4 linked regions of the Homo sapiens genome follow. The gene in region 3 interacts genetically with the main gene of each other region. Each region holds a gene or a part of one and is shown on either strand. Other genes may lie near its edges.

The links. A genetic interaction does not mean that the proteins touch.
Region 1: changes in BOD1L1 (region 3) and MTBP together harm fitness less than expected from each alone (positive genetic interaction), as found in Homo sapiens cells (one large-scale study listed by BioGRID).
Region 2: changes in BOD1L1 (region 3) and DUT together harm fitness more than expected from each alone (negative genetic interaction), as found in Homo sapiens cells (one large-scale study listed by BioGRID).
Region 4: changes in BOD1L1 (region 3) and CEP63 together harm fitness more than expected from each alone (negative genetic interaction), as found in Homo sapiens cells (one large-scale study listed by BioGRID).

What each region holds. Positions count from the first base shown.
Region 1 is NC_000008.11:120,458,815-120,463,699, forward strand, and holds part of MTBP (mdm2-binding protein), read left to right. Parts: intron 1-400; coding exon 401-535; intron 536-2,346; coding exon 2,347-2,441; intron 2,442-4,877; coding exon 4,878-4,885. UniProt on the Homo sapiens protein: Inhibits cell migration in vitro and suppresses the invasive behavior of tumor cells. May play a role in MDM2-dependent p53/TP53 homeostasis in unstressed cells. Inhibits autoubiquitination of MDM2, thereby enhancing MDM2 stability.
Region 2 is NC_000015.10:48,337,825-48,342,709, forward strand, and holds part of DUT (deoxyuridine 5'-triphosphate nucleotidohydrolase, mitochondrial isoform 1 precursor), read left to right. Parts: intron 1-3,464; coding exon 3,465-3,539; intron 3,540-3,690; coding exon 3,691-3,761; intron 3,762-4,197; coding exon 4,198-4,254; 3' UTR 4,255-4,885. UniProt on the Homo sapiens protein: Catalyzes the cleavage of 2'-deoxyuridine 5'-triphosphate (dUTP) into 2'-deoxyuridine 5'-monophosphate (dUMP) and inorganic pyrophosphate and through its action efficiently prevents uracil misincorporation into DNA and at the same time provides dUMP, the substrate for de novo thymidylate biosynthesis.
Region 3 is NC_000004.12:13,616,669-13,622,256, reverse strand, and holds part of BOD1L1 (biorientation of chromosomes in cell division protein 1-like 1), read left to right. Parts: intron 1-2,189; coding exon 2,190-2,314; intron 2,315-5,588. UniProt on the Homo sapiens protein: Component of the fork protection machinery required to protect stalled/damaged replication forks from uncontrolled DNA2-dependent resection.
Region 4 is NC_000003.12:134,492,453-134,497,337, reverse strand, and holds part of CEP63 (centrosomal protein of 63 kDa), read right to left. Parts: intron 2,043-4,885; coding exon of another isoform or gene 2,018-2,042; coding exon 1,974-2,017; intron 1-1,973. UniProt on the Homo sapiens protein: Required for normal spindle assembly.

The sequences.
Region 1 (4,885 bases), on a different chromosome or scaffold from region 3:
TGGGCCACAAGAGTGAAACTCCATCTCAAAGCCAAAAAAAAAAAAAAAAAGGAACAAGACAGACAGCTTCTGTCTTTGCATAACTTACAGACTGGTAGGAAGCCAGATATTGAACAATGCAAAAGAGGTTGTTTGGTCCTGTGGCTGCATAGAATGAGCTTAACATACTCTTGCCAGCTGGTGAAGGACCAACGAGAGCTTTTCATGAAAACCTGAAAAATTGATGTCTAAGTTAAAACAGGATGTGTACCTAAATGTGAGAAGCACACTTTTGAGCTGAGGAATCAAAAATAAATTTATACATGGATTTCCCCTCAACTTTTACATTGTAATAAGATGTATTAATCTTTATAGCATTATTCATGATACTTGTAACTGTGTTTTCTTGGTCTCTTTTCAGTTTGGATTTGAAATTAGTTTTCCTGAATTTTGTTTAAAGGGAGTCACACTTAAGAATTTTAGTACTTCTAATTTAAATACTGACTTCCTTGCCAAAAAGATCATACCATCAAAGGATAAGAATATTTTGCCAAAGGTAATCGTGTTTAATTTTTTTGTGTGATCATTCATGTGTATTTTTGTTCCTATAAAATATGTTTGAATCTTGACTTAATATTACTAATATATGTGCTTAAGTGTGCTCACTAGCATAATTTTTAATATAATTAAGTACTTAAGTTATACTATGTCATCAACATTAAATTTTGGTGAAAGTGTCATTGTTTTAGATGTTTAAAAAAATGTAATGCTACTAAATGTGTATAGTCCTGAAACCACCTTTGGTTTGGACTTTACTATGTGACCTTTCTAAGACTCAGTTTGGAGAGAATATGACATAGAGAAAAGAGGATATGTTTTGATGTTAGGTAAACCTGGGTTTGGAACCTAACTGTGTCACCTATAAGTTGTTTATAACCTTGGGTAGATTGATTAACTCATTTGTGAAGTGGAGGCAATAGTAACACACTTATCTTACAAAGTTATGAGGATTAAATGAGGTGAGAGTTTAATATGTGACATAGTACCTGACATATGCTTAACTTATAGTGTAAGAAGTATCAGTTCTTGCCCTGTATCTCCTATACATTTATTCTTAAAATGCAAGTAATTATAAAATATAATAACTAGGAAAAGGCTTAGTTGGCTTTTTAACATTGGAAAAATAACCTAAGAAGAGATATTTATATGAAGGTACCTTAGAATTCACTTTAAAAGAACTAATTTAAGAACATGGAAAACAGTGGGCATGAAGTTAAAGGATGTCAAATTGATGGTTAATATTTTCTAATCAAAGGGTGGTACAAAAAGAGGGTATCATTTGATTTGAACTCATTTCTCAATATTTGTTTAGAATTGCTTACTTTAAGTAACTTACTATGGCCATCTTTCACAGGAATATTAAATTCTTTTCTAAAAATTAGAATCGTAAGATTCATGACCTCAACTTTTCTTCAAGTATGAATAATGTGTCCAAATTTTTGCTACTGTTGAAGAGAATCTTAGGGTACAACTTCTTCAATAATGTAAAATTCATATTCTCTCTCTGTATATGTATAGACACACACACTGTATAAACACATATGTTTATGATTATAGATATATATACACTTAATCATGTATGGTGAAATTACTCTGCTTTTTACAAGTCTAAAACTTTGTGTAACCTCTTCAAGAAGTGTGCTCTTTTCTTTGCCTTTCATGTGAAGCACCGTGGCTCCAACTACTGAAATAGCCTCCCTTCAGTAACAAACTCTAATTTGGTTTTAGGCTTTACCCAAGAAATACAGTACCGAAATTTTATTTTTTCTGAATGGAGCTTTCTATGTTAATTAGCACATGCTGGCTTCACTATCTCTCTCTGTAATTTATTTAGTCTTTTCACTAGAATTTTTTTTTTCTAAATGTCAGTGTACCACTCAGCCTAAGTTCATCCTGGAGTGTCTTTTCTTTCACTTTTTTAGTCTGCAGATTCCACCTGCAGAGGTAGGTTGCTAATTTGTTTCTTCAACACTATAGCCTATTGTATCACCTGTCTGTCTCGTTGAAGATAAACAGCAAAAGTTGAGAACGCTTGTCCTCTGTTGCTTACCTCTTCCCATACTTATTTTCTCCTGTGAAAGCTCTTCCTGGTTACTAAGTGATCTCCATGTCTGTTTCTGTACCCTGAAAGGTAGAATTGAAATTGAAGAAATTCTGGTCTGCTATAGAGGATTAAATGCTAGGCATGCTTAATGTGTAAAAAGTTGCTTTTTAAGATCCATTTTAAAGTTTTAAACCCTTAATCACTAATTTGTTTACTTTTGTTTATGGTATTTAAATATTACACAATTTTAATTTCTTTTCTAGGTTTTCCATTATTATGGCCCTGCTTTAGAATTTGTGCAGATGATAAAATTATCAGATCTACCCTCCTGCTATATGTCGGATATTGAATTTGAGTTGTATCCTTTCATTTACATGTTCATTTTAGATTACATTTTCTGTGTCAGGTAGAATGTTCTGGTATTGTCAGGTAAATATACATGTTAGGTATATCTTTTTCATTATATTCACTGTTTTAATGTTGATGTTCAAGTAGGCTGCTGGACTCCTTATTTTTGGAGTTGCTGGGGAAGGAAGTTCTTGCTTTTCCCACCACCTGGATCCTATACCTATTTTATCAGAAATCTTCCTCCCTATGCAAGCATCTTTATTTTTGTTCAGTATTGTTGAGACTTTTCTATGGATAGGGCTATGGAAATAATACAGAAGTGATTGAGCCTTGCTTCTTTAATGCAATTATAATGTTCTCTGCTTGAGCACAGGACTGATCTACTCTCACACCTAGCCTAGCATTAACTGCAACTTTGTCCTTCCCACCCACTGCCCAGACACCACCACGTATATATTTTATGTGCTTTTGTTAACTTTACTATTATTTTTTATAGTTTTAATGCTTTTTGGAAATAATTTCCCTTTTCCTGAAATCCAGGAATACATCTCCATGACTTCTGTGTTTTACTCAATATGTTTCTGCTGAAGAAGTCTGTAACTGCAATATATCATAGCATAGAGTAAGCACTCAATATTGTCAGATGAATGACTTTGGATTATGTCAGCCTAAATCAAAATACTCATTATTTTCTTATTGAAAGTTCTTTGCTGCAGAAAAGATAACATATACAAAGGTGTAGGAGAACGTTACCCAGCTGAGAACTGTTTGTAGTCTAGAATCATTAAAGAGTAGTGGTTTTTTGGCTTGGGGGTGTTGAGGGCAGTTGCTAAGTGATCAGATTGGAGAGCCTTTTCAGATTAATCAGGTCCTAAAAGACCTTACGTATCATGATTGGGGTTAAATTCTATCCTAAAGATAATGAGGAATCATACAAGGATTATAAGCCAGACATAGCTTAATGAAAAGTAAATTTTAGATCATGCTGGTAGGATTTTGGAAACCTGAGCAAAGCTCGAACTAAACAAGTGGCATTTGGAATGGAGAGCCAGGAAAAGTACACGATGTGTTAAAGATGTAAAATCAACACGGTATTATGATTTATTTATTACATGCGGAGAAAGTGAGAAGGCCAGAGAGTGTAGTTGATTCCCTATGTTGAAACTGGTGTCACTAGTTGAGATAACATGAGGTGAGCCATTTTCGCAGAGGAAAAGGAATTCAGGTTCGGGTAGTTGGAGTGGTAATGTACATTGTAGTAAAAAGCATAATAGGTAGTTTAAAAAATTTTTTATCCATTATACATTACTGTTGAGAACCATTTAGCCAGCATGCTACCTGGCAGTATAACTAGACGTTACTTTCAGATATAATCTATTATTAATACTTCTTTTCTCTGTCCTCATCTGTTAGCAGCTTGTAGGTCAGAAGCTATTTGATGTTTTTATCTTATATTAGATTCTTGTCTTAGACCAATGGTTTTCAAACTATCTTCCAAGGAAAGTCGAGGACTGAGTTCTTCAGATAATGGGATTGAAAGATAAGTTGAGTGGGCATGGCTCTTGGCCCCCTCCTACTGCAACCAGAGCAGCACCTGTTCTACCCTAAATATTGGGTTTCCATATAAAATGTCACTTGCAAAAAGTTGCTGCATTAAAAAGGTTTGCAAAGTGCACTGTAAACTGTTTTCATGGTACCACCCAACACTTAGATGTTTGGCCGTGTTTTTACATAATATTCAGTATACTTTTTGCTACCATTATGTTAAGAAAAGTTCTACAACTTGAAAAAAAAAATCTTCCCTCAAATACTGTATTTATGCTTTTAGAATAGGCAGAGGACTTCCTGGTATATGGTGTAGAGAGGAGGGAGAAATGTTAGGAATCTGTGGAAAATAAAACAAGTAATTTATAAACTTAAAAAATGTTTAAATGTTTCTCCTGCCATCAGCATGAAGAAACCTAAGAATCAGTCAGCTGATGTATCATTTTATGTATTTAAGTAAATATAAATGGTATCACATGTATCTGCAAATATATTCAACATATTTTAAACTCTCTTTTAAAAATATATAAGCATGTTTAGAAATACACCTAAGAACAGAACATTTTATATAAAAAGAAATTGTTATTGGCTGGAAATGAAACACTAGCATAGTGTTTTTGAATTTTTATTTAGGAGCTACAGTTTTTATAAATTTCTTGTTCTTATAGTTTATAGTAATGCTCTATATAGTAGCACTGTTTCTTAGCATATTTTCAGAATCAAACAAATAATTGGAAAAATACTTATCCTTAGGGAAAGGCGTAATTGTTAACTGCTACAGTTAAATTTTTTAATAGATGAATTTAAGCAACTGTGGAAGAATTGAAATAATGAAACTTATTTTAAGGAGTACATTGTTTCATGGGTACCATTACATCATTTCTTTAACTCCTTAGTACAGAGGATTGA
Region 2 (4,885 bases), on a different chromosome or scaffold from region 3:
GAGAGATGTTGTTAGAAATCCCAGGCTCTAAATAAGGGTCAAAGGGAAAAGTTGAGCATTCAGGATTCTGTTCAGAATTCACATCTGGTAGGTGTGGATAGTTTTTCACTAAAAAAGGTTTCCAACAAATGACATGCCAAACTCTTGACACAGTAAAACTTTTGCCTGAAGTCAGTTAATCACTCTGCCAGTTCCAATGCATGATTTTTCCAGTGATAACTTCAAGTTACTTTCTGCTTTCTCTGAGGAGAAATATCCCTGATACTTATATCCTGTAGGCAGAGAAGGCTTTTCTTGGAGGTCGAATGGCAATTGGGTGGTAAATGAATTTGGAACTACTGAAATTTTTATACCGTCAACATTCATGCAAAAAAAAAAACTATTGAGGGCCTTTTTTTCTGCCATACATTTGAATTGACTTCAAACTTCTTAATTTCTTTTAGTCACTTAAAGGTTTTTCACATTTTCGTGGCCCAAGCATAAAGATCACCTATCTGCAGGATTCAAGACACCCAATCATTTGAGTAGTTCTGATAGGACTGCTTTACAGATACGTTAGCAGAGGCCTTTCAAAAAGGGAGTGTTTTTGTATGTTAGAAGATACTATAAAGCCAACAAGCAAATATTTGCAACTTATATGAAAAAGAACAAATGAGAAAAAAACATACACAAAATATAGACAAGGACATGCAAATGTCCAACAAATGGGAGGAAAAAAATCCAGCCTCACTAGTCATCAGGGAATGAAAAGTAAGGCAATGAGATAGCCATTTTGTACTCATCATATTGGCCAGAATGTAAGAGATTGTTGCCATCAAATATTGGCAAGGATTTTGGAAATGGGCATTCTCAAATATTGCTGATGGAAGTTTGAGTGGCTACACCTTTTTTGCAACCTATTTGATGAAAATAAAAAGCATTCATATACAAGGATATACTTAAAGGGCTGCTTCATTTATTATAGCAAAATGTAAAAGCAGCCTGTGTCTGATATTATGCAAGAGAATAGTTACATAGAAACAATGGTACAGGTTGGGCGTTGTGGCTCATGCCTGTAATCCCAGCACTTTGGGAGGCTGAGACAGGCAGATTGCTTGAGCCCAGGAGTTTGAGGCTTATTTGAGCAACATAGGGATACTTTCTCTCTACAAGAAATACAAAAATTAGCCAGGTGTGGTGGTGCCTTTGTACCTGGAGGCTGAGGTGGGAGAATCACTTGAGGTTGAGGCTATAGTGAGTTGTGATCATACCACTATACTCCTGCCTGGGCTATAAGAGTGAGACCCTGCCAAAAAAAGAAAGAGAAGGAGAGAGAGAACCCATATTTCCATATCTTGTATCTAAAAAGAATGGCTAACATTTACATATATTAATCTCAAAGGATAAAAAGAAAAAAATAAAGTAGTATGTAAGATATATTTCTGTAACATTAGCTATCTCAGGGAGGGTAAGAGAATATTATAAGCTTTTACTTTATATGTATTTGTATTGTTTTAGTTATTTAAAAATTTTTGAATAAAGTAGAAACAATAGTTCAGAAGTCAGTCCATGTCTTTCTCTAACTCATTCAAGATAGATGAATTATTAGCTTGTACCTCAAAATCTCCCAGCATGGAAGTTCTCTAGCCTACTGTGGCCATTTTTTCTAGCATGGAACAACATGCTATGTTGAGGGATTTCTTCATTAAATCTAATTTAAATTGTCCCTGCAGTCAAAATTTTTTCCATATAGATAATATGGAAAACAGCTGGTTTCATCTTTATATCAAATTTTTTCATAAATATTAAGGTGTAAATTAATGGTCAACTGACGGTGGAGAAATAAAGCAGGGTTTGGTATTGGAATTGGTCAAGTTCAATAATGGATTGTTTCCTTCAGGCCCGACAGGAGATGAACTGCCTTTGCTGCTTTTCTGCCCAGTTTTATACTCACTCTTCTCGTAAAAGTGTTGCATCAGGAACCTTTTAAGAAGTGCTTAAATTCAGATTCACTTGTCCCTAGTAATTCATTCATAAAGCACAGGGGTTCATTTAAACGTATGTTGTAATCCATTCGGAAAATCTAAAATGTTGTTTTTGCTGAATATTTTTCCCCGTGGTGGACCTAAGGGTTTGCTTTTTTCCCCCCATTATATGAGAAAATTGAAAGGATATGCTTAGGAATTACCCTTGTTCTTAAAAAATGGGGGGTGGGTATGCTTTGGGGTTTTTTTGTCTGTTTTCTCAGCTTTCAAATAATGAGGAGTATGGGCAAATAGCATTACTGCCCATTGAGCTGAACACAGGATTATTTTTATTTCCATATTTTTTCCTTCATCAGGGCTTTTGTTTGGGGTAGAGTATTAATAACAAGTAAGATGTGACATGGAGCTGTCTTCAGTTAGATTCACGTGAGTCTTATCCAGCCTTTCACAAACTGAGGAGAAAGAATTAACGTGTATAGCAGGAAATTGGGGGTGGGAGGAGGAAGGGGAGTGACTGCTAATAAGGTAGGGGATTTTTGGAGGGAGGGTAATGTAAATGTGCTATAATTGACTGTGACGATAGTTGGCCAACTCTGATACACTATGAACTGTGGAATTGTAACACTTCAAATGGATAAATTGTATGCTTTGTGAATTATTTATCAATATAAAAAAATGAAAAGGCCCGGTGCACCTGTATTATCTGTGCTTGTGCTTATGGAAATATTTTAAATTATTGGCTCAAAGATAAATGCTAGCAAGTCTGGTAAGTATAACTCTCTGGGCTATGTCAGGGACCTGGCTCAAGTCTCCCCTGCAAAGATCTTCTCCCCCTGTGTTCATAATCTTAAACAAGTATTAATTACACAAAAAAAGTTGTACTCATGAAGCCTATGTGCTACAGTCTTCTGAGAAACCATGCTCTAAGAAAGGATGGTGGTTCAGATTAAAAGGAGAGGAAGATTATGAACTGAAAAATACAGCTTCATTTTTAGTGTAAAAATGGAATATTCTAATATTTGCAAGACTGCTGCTTAACAATGTCAGCGTTGATTTACTCCACTGCAGAGCTTTAGGCTTTTTGACATTTTTATTTATGACTCAATCGTATTTCAATCTGGGTATTAGCGGGAAGCTGATACCAGGAAAAACCTTTAAAACCCAAATCGTAATTTTCTCCTAGTCTTTTTGGCAAGTGTGCCGTGGGTAGACAGTAGGTTGGAGATGGCCATTGCTACTGCCAGCTTAAAATAGGAAATGGTCGCCATTTGATAAAGAGTGACAGGTTGGAAAATTAGGACCTGTTTTCTAAATTTTTATTTGTATTTTAGTAATGTCATTTCTTGGTTTTGAGGCTTTACATAGTACCAGGGCAAGATTCACTTATTCAATTGTAAGAATACAAATCTCAGAGCTACATGATAATGATTTTGAGATAATCTTACACCTCTAGTATTCCAATAGCAAAAATTGAGATAATATTACTTTTCTTTTCTCTAGCTGGTGTCATAGATGAAGATTATAGAGGAAATGTTGGTGTTGTACTGTTTAATTTTGGCAAAGAAAAGTTTGAAGGTATGTTAAATATATACATTCACATAATTTTAGTGAATTTTCAGAGTCATGTATGTGTAAATTAATATTGACTCCTTTAATTCTCATTGAATAAGACAGGATATGGCGAATGTGTCAGTAACGTCAGTAATAAACTATTCTTTCTTTGAAGTCAAAAAAGGTGATCGAATTGCACAGCTCATTTGCGAACGGATTTTTTATCCAGAAATAGAAGAAGTTCAAGTAAGTATTACAAAGGAAGATACAGAATAAGTAATATAACATCTTAAGTGAAGAAATATATATAATCTTGAGAATTTAATATGCTGTTTGTAACTAAATAGTATATATGACTAAACTTATTTTAAGCAAATTTAAAATACTAGTTTTAGAATTTCTTTAAATGTTTTTCATGTAGCTATTATGTAGTATTACTTTGGATAATAAGTTATTTAAACATACTGTGAACTTCTAATATTTTATTAGAATTTTTTAAAGTTATCCAGTATTCTAATTTATGGAGCTTTTTAGAATTTAATTTTCTTTCTGTAATCTCCCTTTTGAAAAGATGATATAGCAAGAGTAGAATTCTGGCTGTATTTTTCTTAGGAGCTGGAGAGGAAAACTGAAAGAGGCTCTTAAAAAAAACTGTGAAGCTTACTACCTTTCTATCTTTCAGGCCTTGGATGACACCGAAAGGGGTTCAGGAGGTTTTGGTTCCACTGGAAAGAATTAAAATTTATGCCAAGAACAGAAAACAAGAAGTCATACCTTTTTCTTAAAAAAAAAAAAAAAGTTTTTGCTTCAAGTGTTTTGGTGTTTTGCACTTCTGTAAACTTACTAGCTTTACCTTCTAAAAGTACTGCATTTTTTACTTTTTTTTATGATCAAGGAAAAGATCATTAAAAAAAAACACAAAGAAGTTTTTCTTTGTGTTTGGATCAAAAAGAAACTTTGTTTTTCCGCAATTGAAGGTTGTATGTAAATCTGCTTTGTGGTGACCTGATGTAAACAGTGTCTTCTTAAAATCAAATGTAAATCAATTACAGATTAAAAAAAAAAGCCTGTATTTAACTCATATGATCTCCCTTCAGCAACTTATTTTGCTTTAATTGCTTTAAATCTTAAGCAATATTTTTTATTCAGTAAACAAATTCTTTCACAAGGTACAAAATCTTGCATAAGCTGAACTAAAATAAAAATGAAAAGGAGAGATTAAAGGTATTCCTTGTTCTTCCCTTCTCTTCACTAGTCTAAAAACTTCTTTTTAATCTTAAGATTCTTTGTGATGAGGGTGAGAAAAAGAATCCTCAGTTTATTTTTCCACTATTAATCTTTCTTTTGATAAATCCTCTATTGACTGGGTA
Region 3 (5,588 bases):
AGCCTAATGAATGTGTGTTAGATTTGGGAATACCGGAAAGAAGAATTAGGCTTTAGAATCATTGGGGAGAAAGAATTAAGAATTAGTTTTAGGGCTGGGTATGGTGGCTGACACCTGTAATCCCAGCACTTTGGGAGGCCGAGAAAGGTGGATCACTTGAGGTTAGGAGTTCAAGACCAACATGGCCAATATAGCAAGACCTTGTCTCCACTAAAAATACAAAAATTAGCCAGGTGTGGTGGCGCATGCCTGTAGTCCCAGCTACTCAGGAGCCTGAGGCACTAGAATCACTGGAACCCGGCAGGTGGAGGTTCCAGTGAGCCGAGATCACACCACTGTACTCTAGCATGGGCAATCGAGCAAGACTCTGCCAAAAAAAAAAAAAAAAAAGAATTAATTTTAGTTCATATCGATTTTGGATAAATGGACAGGCACATAGGAAATGATCATGTAGGACAGGAAATAAGTATCAGCAAAGGCCTGAAAATTGGAACTGATGAAAGGGCATCAGAGGGATAAAATGTTTGTCATTCTGTGTTAGAGATAGTTACCCATTCAGCTAACAAGTATATTTTAATTGCTCATTTGCCAAGCAGTGTGATAGGCTATATGAAAACAAATTGTAAGAGAGATAGAGGAGGAGGCTTACACATCAATGGAGGATAAATATGCCTTGCTTCCGAAAATACAATGTAGTGCAAGAATTGCTCGAATGGTAGCATGTATAGAAAACAGTAGGAGCGTGGATGAAGAGCCCATAAGCCTACCTTCGGTGTCAAGATGATTTCACAGATTAGGGTGAGCTCTGAAGGTGAGAAGTTTGTCAGATGGACAACCAGAGGGAATGGTAGTTGCAGGATGGTAGGTGCAGATATGAGAATTTCTCACTGGAGTGTAAACTTTGAAGCTAAAAGGAGGCAAATGGCAGAAGGTGAGGCTATACAGTGCTTGCTTAATATCAGTCAGGGACACTCAAACTCATCCACATTAAAAGCTGTATAGAAGAAAGGTAGAAAGAACATCAGTGTTGGGAGACAGCCTCTAGAAATGGAGTGCAGTGCTGAGTGCTTGGTCACATATTCCTTCCAGGCAATGCCCCTTCAGGTAGAGATGATGTAATATGTGTTCCCCTCCATGTTCCCCTCAGGGAGCACATCAAGGGTTCTCAGACTCAGCACTGTCGACATTTGGGGCTGGATAGTTCTTTGCTGTCGGGGGATTGTCCTATGCATTGTAGGATCTTCAGTAGCATCCTTGCCCTTGACCCACTAGATGCCAATAGCACTCTCATCAGTTGTAACAACCTAAAATGTCTCCAGACATTGCCAAGCGTCCCTTGGGGGATGAGAGTGAAATCCTTCTTGGTAGAGAACCATTGCCTTACCTCAGATTTAATGCCTAGTTCAAGTAGTTGTCCCTCAATAATTTCTCTTGGGTCTATGCCATTAGCTGGTTTCTGCCACCCCAGTAAAGACCTTCCTCACTGTAGTTTATTGCATGCTTTCCTAAAGTATTTTGTGTCTCTTTACTCTTGCACTGTAGGATGATTAACCATCAGAAAGCTTAGCTGTTCTATCACTCTGCCCATATGTGCAGTGGGCTCCCATTCTCTACCCTGTAATTCCAAACTTGTACAAGTAACCAAAGCTTTTTAGCACCTGGCCCCAACCTCTCTGTCTTAACCTCATTTCTCTGCTTTTTGTATTCTCTTCTATAGCCAAATTGGACCACCAATTTGGAGGCTCACTAAATGCTCCTGGCCTCCAGTTTGCTCATCCACTTGCTCTTTGTTTACATTGACTGTATGAGCAAAGCCAGCCATTCTCATTCCCAGCTTCCTTGTGCAATTGATTTTTCCAGCTCAAATGGCACATTTTCAGTGAAGGCATGCTTCCTCAGCTCTTCTCCCTTTTTTACTCCAAATCATCTAATAATAACACTTGTTCGTGTCTTATTTTCCAGTCCTTTGTCTATAAATAAGAGGTGTATCTTTCTTCTTTATATTCCTCATATCTCCAAACACCTTGTCTTACACAAAATAAGTAGTATTTGAATGAGTGTAAGTTATCTTGAAGCAGAATTGTCAGAAACTGTGAAACTTTGTTGTCCCATGGTAAAAATACTTTTCTGAGAGGTGAATATTGATACTGTATAACCTTGAAGACTTACCTTCGTTTTTTTCTCTCTAGCCTGCGTATCAGAATCTGAGACAGCGTGTTGACAACTTTGTTGCAAATCACTTGGCAACTCACACATGGAGTCCGCATCTCAATAAGAACCAGCTAAGAAACAACATTAGACAACAAGTCCTCAAGTAAGTCTCAGAGATAGAGTTCTGGGCAGGTTTTAAATGTCCTAACCTACTTTGCCTGAAAGCGGAGGCATTACATACATATTTGTTCACCTAATGATGTTGACAATTTTACTGGATTTGGTGTGGCTATTTCGTGTGATGTAGCATAATTTTGGATTTGGGTCTAATCACTTCACATGTTCTTATACATTTTAACAGTCTGATTGTTCCTATAGACCTTTGGAAATATTTGAAGGAAGGAAATAACAGTATGACTTTCTAAAAAATCTAGATATAATATTAATAGATGATATATACAGTTGCCTTCACAACTATTTTCTTGACCCTAAGAGAGCAAGCAGGCTTTATTATTCTTATTTTACAAATAAAGACATTAAAGATTACTGAAATTAAAATATTCTCTCTTGATTTGAGGCCACGTCTTCTTTTAATACAGTGCCCCCGTCTTTTGCATTTTACTATGACTTTTAACTGCTGTTTATGAATGATATAGCTCCCCACCTCCCCTCAAAGTGTTTGGACTTGTCAGAGCCATTTTGAGTGAACATAAGGTAATGACAATTATAAGAACTCGAATATTTGGAGCATCCTTAGGAAACTAGATTTACGGTCTTCTACTTTTTTTTTTTTTTTTTTTAAAGAGTCTCATTCTGTTCCCCAGGCAGGAGTGCAGTGGCATAATCATAGCCTGCTGCAGCCTCAATCTCCTGGGCTCAAGCAGACCTCCCAACGTCATCCTCCTGAGCACCTGCCACCATGCCCAGCTTATCGTTGTATTTTTTTGTAGAGACAGGGTCTCATTATGTTGCCCAGACTGGTCTCCAAATCCTAGGCTCAAGGGATCTTCCCTCCTTGGCTTCTGAAAGTGCTGGGATTATAGGCATGGGCCACCTCACCTGGCCACTACTTGTTCTTGAATGTAAATATTTGCAAAGACAAGAAAGCCTTCTACCCTTGCTATACCCCTCAAAAAAAGGGTGACTAAGTTATTTAGAGATCATCCAGTCTCCCTGACTTGACAAGTATTTATGTTCAAGTACATCTTTGAGAATGAAGTGTAGCTTTTTTTTTTTTTAACAGTTAAACAAATCTGTTTTATACCTGCCACCTCTTAATTTCCTTTTGTCCCATAGGAACCTCTCGAAAGCCTATCTAGTCTGATAGTTTCAACCAACAGGAAGCCCCACAAATCAAAATTCACACCCTGACTAAAAGACAAACCTATTTAGCCACAGGTAATACTAGAAACCAGAAGCCTGGGGGCTCAGACAGTGTCTCCTTGTGCATAAGAGAAGAGGGAAATTCACAATAGCTTTGTTGTCTACATTTTAAAGGATGTCTGAGGAACCTGTAAAAGAGTCCAGGTGAGATCAAAAGATGCCATTAGAAGGCTGCATAATAATACCTGGTGGGAAAAGGTCAAAGCTGTTTCTAGAAAAAGTAGAAACAAAAAAGATCTGTTGGGTGACAGGCCCGCTGCCTGTAGTTTCCACAAAGGCTTTCAAAGAGAACAATGACCAAAATAGCTTAGGACTAGGGGATAAGGGAGTGGAGGTAGGGTAGAGCACCCCTTCACACACATTTATACAGAGCCCTACTGATTACTTTCATTCAGTGATTTGCATAGCCACCTCCCTGTTCACAAATGATTGCATTGCTTTAAAAGCATGTTTTTTTGGGAGTCTGGCATTTTTTTTCTTCATATATTGACACTCAGATTGAAGGCAAACTTCTTAGAATTGCATTTACTTTTATAGCGTATAAAATCTATAAGGTAAGGGAGCAGTCATTCTTTTATTTAAGGGAACTAAGTCTTACACATGTGAAAATTAAGCACTTAAAATTATTGCTGTACCAGTAAGATATTGTGATCACAAAATCATGTTTGGTGCGAGGTCAGGGGTTCTTGTGGCTGTGTCAGTGATTAAATGCTGGAGCAATTTGCCTATGAGTAATGAGGAATCTCTTTTTCTGGAGACATTTTGAAAGAGGGAAGACAGCTGCCTTCTCTTGGATGATACTGATAATAACATTTTAAAGCTTCCTTAAAGAGATTATTTAGTTATGTTCAATCTGAAGGTATAGGGGTGGACTAGCCCCTGTAAATAAATATAATTTCAAACAGTTTTTTGTACGTATGCTTTGAGACATACTCACTTGACTCCATTAGGTTGAGCTATCTGCACTTGCCATTTTTGTAAGACAAAAATGGTCTAATACCAGTAATTTCAGATGGTTCAACTTAATAGCTGATCTGCTGACTCAGTAGGAGGGAAAATTTTATTCTACTTAAGCTTTTATTTGTACAACAGAATCTGAAAATCCTAGGTAACTGAATAACGAACTTAGCTAAACATAATTTGAAAGGAAGACAAGGAAGTAACTTTAACCAGAAAAACGCCAGCTGTTGGCATTTTGGCTTTGCCGTTGACCTAGGGCTGTAGCTTCTCCCCACTTGGGTGAGGCAGTTATGGCCGCTAAGTGCAGTATGATCATTGGTACTGGACTCCATTTTTCTGTAAGATTAGAGCTGACCTCTGTGTGAGAAAGGACTAAAGCAGAAGTGTTTTGTTTGTTTGCAAAACAAGAGGCTGGAACATAGGCAAACAGAGAAAGAGACTGAAGCAAAAATTTGGGAGTGGATAGTTTAATTTTTTTTTGGTACTTTTTTTTCTATTTTCTATTTTTTTTTTTTTTTTTGAGACGGAGTTCGCTCTGTCGCCAGGGTGGAGTGCAGTGGTGCCATCTCAGCTCACTGCAATCTCTGCCTCCTGGATTCCAGCAATTCTCCTGCCTCAGCCTCCCAAGTAGCTGGGATTACAGGCACGTGCCACCACACCCAGCTAATTTTTGTATTTTTAGGAGAGATGAGGTTTCACCATGTTGGCCAGGATGGTCTCGATCTCCTGACCTTGTGATCTGCCCGCCTTGGCCTCCCAGAGTGCTGGGATTACAGGCGTGAGCCACCATGCCCGGTCCTTTTTGTACCTTTTTACTTGTACCCTAAAACCTTTTTTAAGATTGCTTTTTCTTATTTCTTTTCTACCTACTACATTTTAAATACACCTCTAAGATGTAACAGTGTTTGCAAGATTTGCATTTTTTTTTAATCTTTAAAAAGCAGGTAACCTACTTTGTGCTGAGTTGGCTCATTTTTCTCTATGGCCCACATAAGTAGAATTATAGTTTCACAAGGCGACAAGGTGCTTCCAGAAATGAAAAACTAATCCATCCTGCACTCCAGATGGAAGTGCACTCAAAAATAGCATTTGTA
Region 4 (4,885 bases), on a different chromosome or scaffold from region 3:
GCAAAGATTTTATGGTTAAGACTTCAAAAGCACAGGCAACCAAAACAAAAACCGACAATTGGGACCTAGTTAAACTAAAAAGTTTTTGCACGGCAAAGGAAACAATAGAGTCAAAGACAACTTGTAGAATGGGAGAAAATATTTGCAAACTATTCATTCAACAAGGGACTAAACATCCAGAATATACAAGAAAAACAACTCAACAGCAAAAAAACAAAAAACCCTATTAAAATGTGGGCAAAGGATTTGAATAGACATTTCTCTAAAGAAGACATACAAATGGCCAAAAGGTGTATGAAAAAATGGTCGACACCACTAAATCACCAGGAAAATGCAAGTGAAAACCACAATGATTCATCTCACCCCAGTTAGAATGATTATCAAAAAGACAAAATATAACAAATGCTGGGGGGGATGTGGACAAAAGGGAACTCTCATATGCTGTTGGTGAGAATGTAAAATTAGTACAGCCATTATGGAAAACTAAATGGAGTTTTCTAAAAAACTAAAAATAGAACTACCATATTGTATATAGCACCCTTAACATAAGTAACTCCATTTTAGAAAGAGATTGCATCTCACATTTCAAAAGACATCATGCCCACAGGGACCCGATGTTCACCTTATCAATAAAGACTGCACTCAATCAGATAATGACATAAACAGGCACAATATTTCACTATCAGTTATCACCAGAAGATTCTGTGGCCACAAAAAGAGCAAGACTTTACCAGCTCAAAACAGCTGTCTTGATAACAGCCTGTCTGGCTGTCACTTGTGATCAGCACCTGGCATCTGTCACCAAAGGCTCCTCCTTGCAAGAATGTTGACAACCGTCCAGATCAGGCCAGAATATTCTCTTTGTCCAGTTGTTCTCTTTGGACTAGTTCTTTAGCCCCCCCCCCCTTTTTTTTCTATCCTTTTCTCCTGTTAAATGTTACTTTGTTTGATGTGGAATGTTTACACTGCAACATTTACATATATTAATACACTATTATGTATGGTTTGCAATACTGACTGACTTGTGGAGAGGCTTGAGCCTGTATGCCCATGGCTCTGACTATTGAGTGAACTGGTAGTACTAGGGGGAAATGCCTCCTTGGGAACTCCATGTAGCTTGTGGCTTTTATGACTGAAATAGCATCAATAAAAGTTTGCTCTTGTAGAAAAGACACAAACATGTATGGACCTGGTTATGTCTGACTTTGCACCACTCACAACACATATGATTCAGAAAGCACACTATTGGGTAATCTATCCAAAGGAAAGGAAATCAGTATGTGAAAGGGATACTTGTACCCCCATGTTTATTGCAGCATTATTCACAATAACCAAGATATGGAATTGACTTGAGTGTCCAACAGCAGATTAATGGATAAAGAAAATGTCAGAAATATATCCATCATGGAATACTATTCAGCCATAAAAAAGAATGAAGCCCTGTTATTTGCAGCAACATGGATAAAACTGGTGGTCGTTAAGTGAAATAATAGGCACAGAAAGACAAATATCTCATGTTCTCATTCATATGTGGGGTCTAAAAAAGTTCACCTCATGGAGGTAGAGAGTAGAACGATGGTTACCAGAGGCTGGGAAGGGGTTGGGGGTGAAGAATGTTTGGTTAATGGGTACAAACCATACAGTTAGGTAGAAGAGTAAGCTCTAGTGTTAAATAGCACAGTAAGGTGACTACTAAGTAACTAGTATGTAACTAGTTAAGTAATTAGCACAGTCGGGTGACTAGCACAGTAAGGTTCCTTAAACTTTAAAAATTTACTATATATTTCAAAGTAGCTAGAAGAATTGAAATGTTCCCAACACAAAAAATGATAAATGCTTGAGCTGATAGGTATACTAAATACCCTTATTTGATCATTACACATTATATGTATGTATCAAAGTATCATGTGAACCCTATAAATATGTAATCATGTATTAACCAAAAAAATTAATTTTAAAAAAAGCAAACTTACCCACCATGCCCTCGATTTTGTATTCCTTCTAACAAAGCCTCCATCACCAAATCCCCTTTGTTTTGGCAACTGACAAAGAAAAAAATATCAGTCATGAGACAATTCATTTCTTCAGTTCTAACATTCTAACTTACAACTTAAGAATGTGAATGAAAGCATACATAATAATGAAAAAATGCAGCACTTCTTAAGATGACTGTAGAAGCAGTCAAAGAACATCACTTCAGGAATACTAGGAACAAACTATTTCGGACTAAAACAGAATAACTTAAAAATATCTGAATTGCGGTTGACACTCTCTCCGTGTAAATATCAAATATCTCATTGTTCTTTGCCTAATTCCTAATGTCGGGTGAGCAGGGGTGGAGGTGGGATCTCTCTAGCAGACGGATACACAAACTCCCTTAACAAAATGAGAAAGAAATGGGTTCACACATGTCAGAGGGAAAGTATAGCTTTTTAAAAATTAAAGAGATAGTATAAAAAATGCGAAGTGTACTGAGATTAAACTCTTTGGTCTATCATGGGAAAGCCTACTCACTCCTGAAGACAGGCTCATAGAGCTTCCTGCATGCAACATCCTCTCTCCACCGAAAGGCAGCCACAGGGCCCTCCCACCTCTGCACTTCATTTGCTCCCAGTGCTTAATACGTTCTTTCATAGGAGTTGCACCACACTGGAAGTGAGTTTTTTACATACTATTTTTCCTTACTAGACTATTCATCCCTCCAGGGCAGAAACCCAATTTTATTCATCTCTGCAGCTGCAGAGCTCAACGCAGCATTTCAACATGGCACGTGGCAGATTATTTTGGCTGAACTTAACTCCCCTCCCTCTTTTACCTACCCTCTCCCCCATGCAAACTGGTCACAGCTGGGGAACTACATGAAGGGTCTAGCAGAGAAAGAGGGAACGGGAGATAGAAGACTGCCATATAAACAGCAAGATACAGTTGGGTGCGGTGGCTCACGCCTGTAATCCTAGAACTTGGGAGGCCGAGGGAGGCGGATCACCTGAGGTCAGGAGTTTGAGACCAGCCTGGCCAACATGGTAAAACTCCGCCTCTACCAAAAAAAAAAAAAATTAGCTGGGCATGGTGGCATGCACCTGTAGTTCCAGCCATGGGGAGGCTGAGGTAGGAAAATCGCTTGAAGTCGGGAGGCGGAGGTTGCAGTGATCCGAGATCACACCATTGCACTACAGCCTGGGTGGCAGACAGAGATTCCATCTCAAATAAATAAATAAATAAATAAATAAATAAATAAATAAATATAAAATAAAGGGTAAGATACACCATGAAGAAAGGTGACAGTGAGAAAGGAAAGAGGACCCTTAAACTCAGTAGTGTTGATTAATATGTGTATGCTTCTCGCCTTTTATAATAAATCTTCAAAATGTTCAATGTCAAACCACTTTTCATTCCAAAATGCTTTTTCCTTAAACCCTTAAGACAATAACCAGACTGTGGTGTAGAGGTTCTGCCCCTGGGCTAATCCTCATCTAAAAATTATACTGCTGTAAGAAGTAGATTATTTTACTCAACACGTAATTCAATGTTGTACTAACAACTAGATATATAGTGATGAAAGATATGGCCCCTTTCAAGGTATTAATAGTCTAGTATGGGACAGAAAAAAATGAGCCAAAAAGGCTTTCCCAGTGTGATAAATATAGTGAGAGACATGCCCAGGGTGTTCCAGAGACACAGAGGAGAATGAGAAGACTGGAAAATAGAACCACTGCACCTTATTTGCATCTATTTTTAAAGATACTAACAAACTGAGTATTAAATTATTTGTGCACAAACGTGACAGGGAGGATTTTTTTTCTAGTTGGTTTATCCTACATATTACACCAAAATTGCAAAAATAAAAACCTAAAGAAAAAGGTTCCCATGTTTTACTCCACTTTCAAATCACAATACAGTCCAACTACAATGCAACCAAGATTCCATGTTTTGGTCCACTCTAGGAGAACTGGGAGGCAGTACACGGTCCACACCACACTAGATGGAGACCCAGGATACAGTCCTACTCTGCAACTAACTAGCTTTATATTCTCGGACTTGTTTTAACATCTGCAAAATGAGGGGCATGAACAATATTCTCTAAGGTTTCTTCCAGCTTTTTCATGGGTTCTAACAGCCAATTAAATGTCCACTGTAAGTAGCATGCTCCTGACAACCATACACGGATACTTAACTAACATGTAGGAAAGTGCTATTCTTATTGACAGTGCTATCACAGTTATTCAAAATTATCATTAGTAAAATTATACTTATTTAGGTCATGTTATTCTTAAACATTAATATATTTAGTAATATACATTAATATATTTTCTATGACTATTTAATAATATACTTAGAAGTTAAGTTACTGAATGTTCAACAGCTGCCTTGTACACATTGTCTAAATCAATCTTCACTATACTCATAAAAGACAGATACTATTACTTTGAGAAAACAGGCTTAGAGAGTTAAATAACTTGACTATGATAAACTAAAAATTATAGTCCTGGATTCAACCTAGACATTGTGGCAATCAATTGAGTCACAATCGATGTGCAACCTTTATATATTTTACAGTATTCTATATCTTAAAATATATCAGCCTATCTTTTGGCTTAATAGTGTCTTTGCAATAAAAAAAGAAATTAAACTGAAGTATGACATCACTACTGTGGCCACCAGGTGGCAGCAGCACAATAATGAAATAGTCACATAAGAAATATTGCTATTTTAGAAATCAAAATGGTCTAAGATAGAGATTCCTGTTTAAAAAAAAAAAAAAAAAGGAGGGAAGTGGACCAGTAATATCCTATGTGAGAAATAAAGTAAACTTACTAATGTGCAAAGTGTTTCTGTAATACCTTCACCATCTGCCTGGTGCCAAACACCATCAATTCTCAGGATC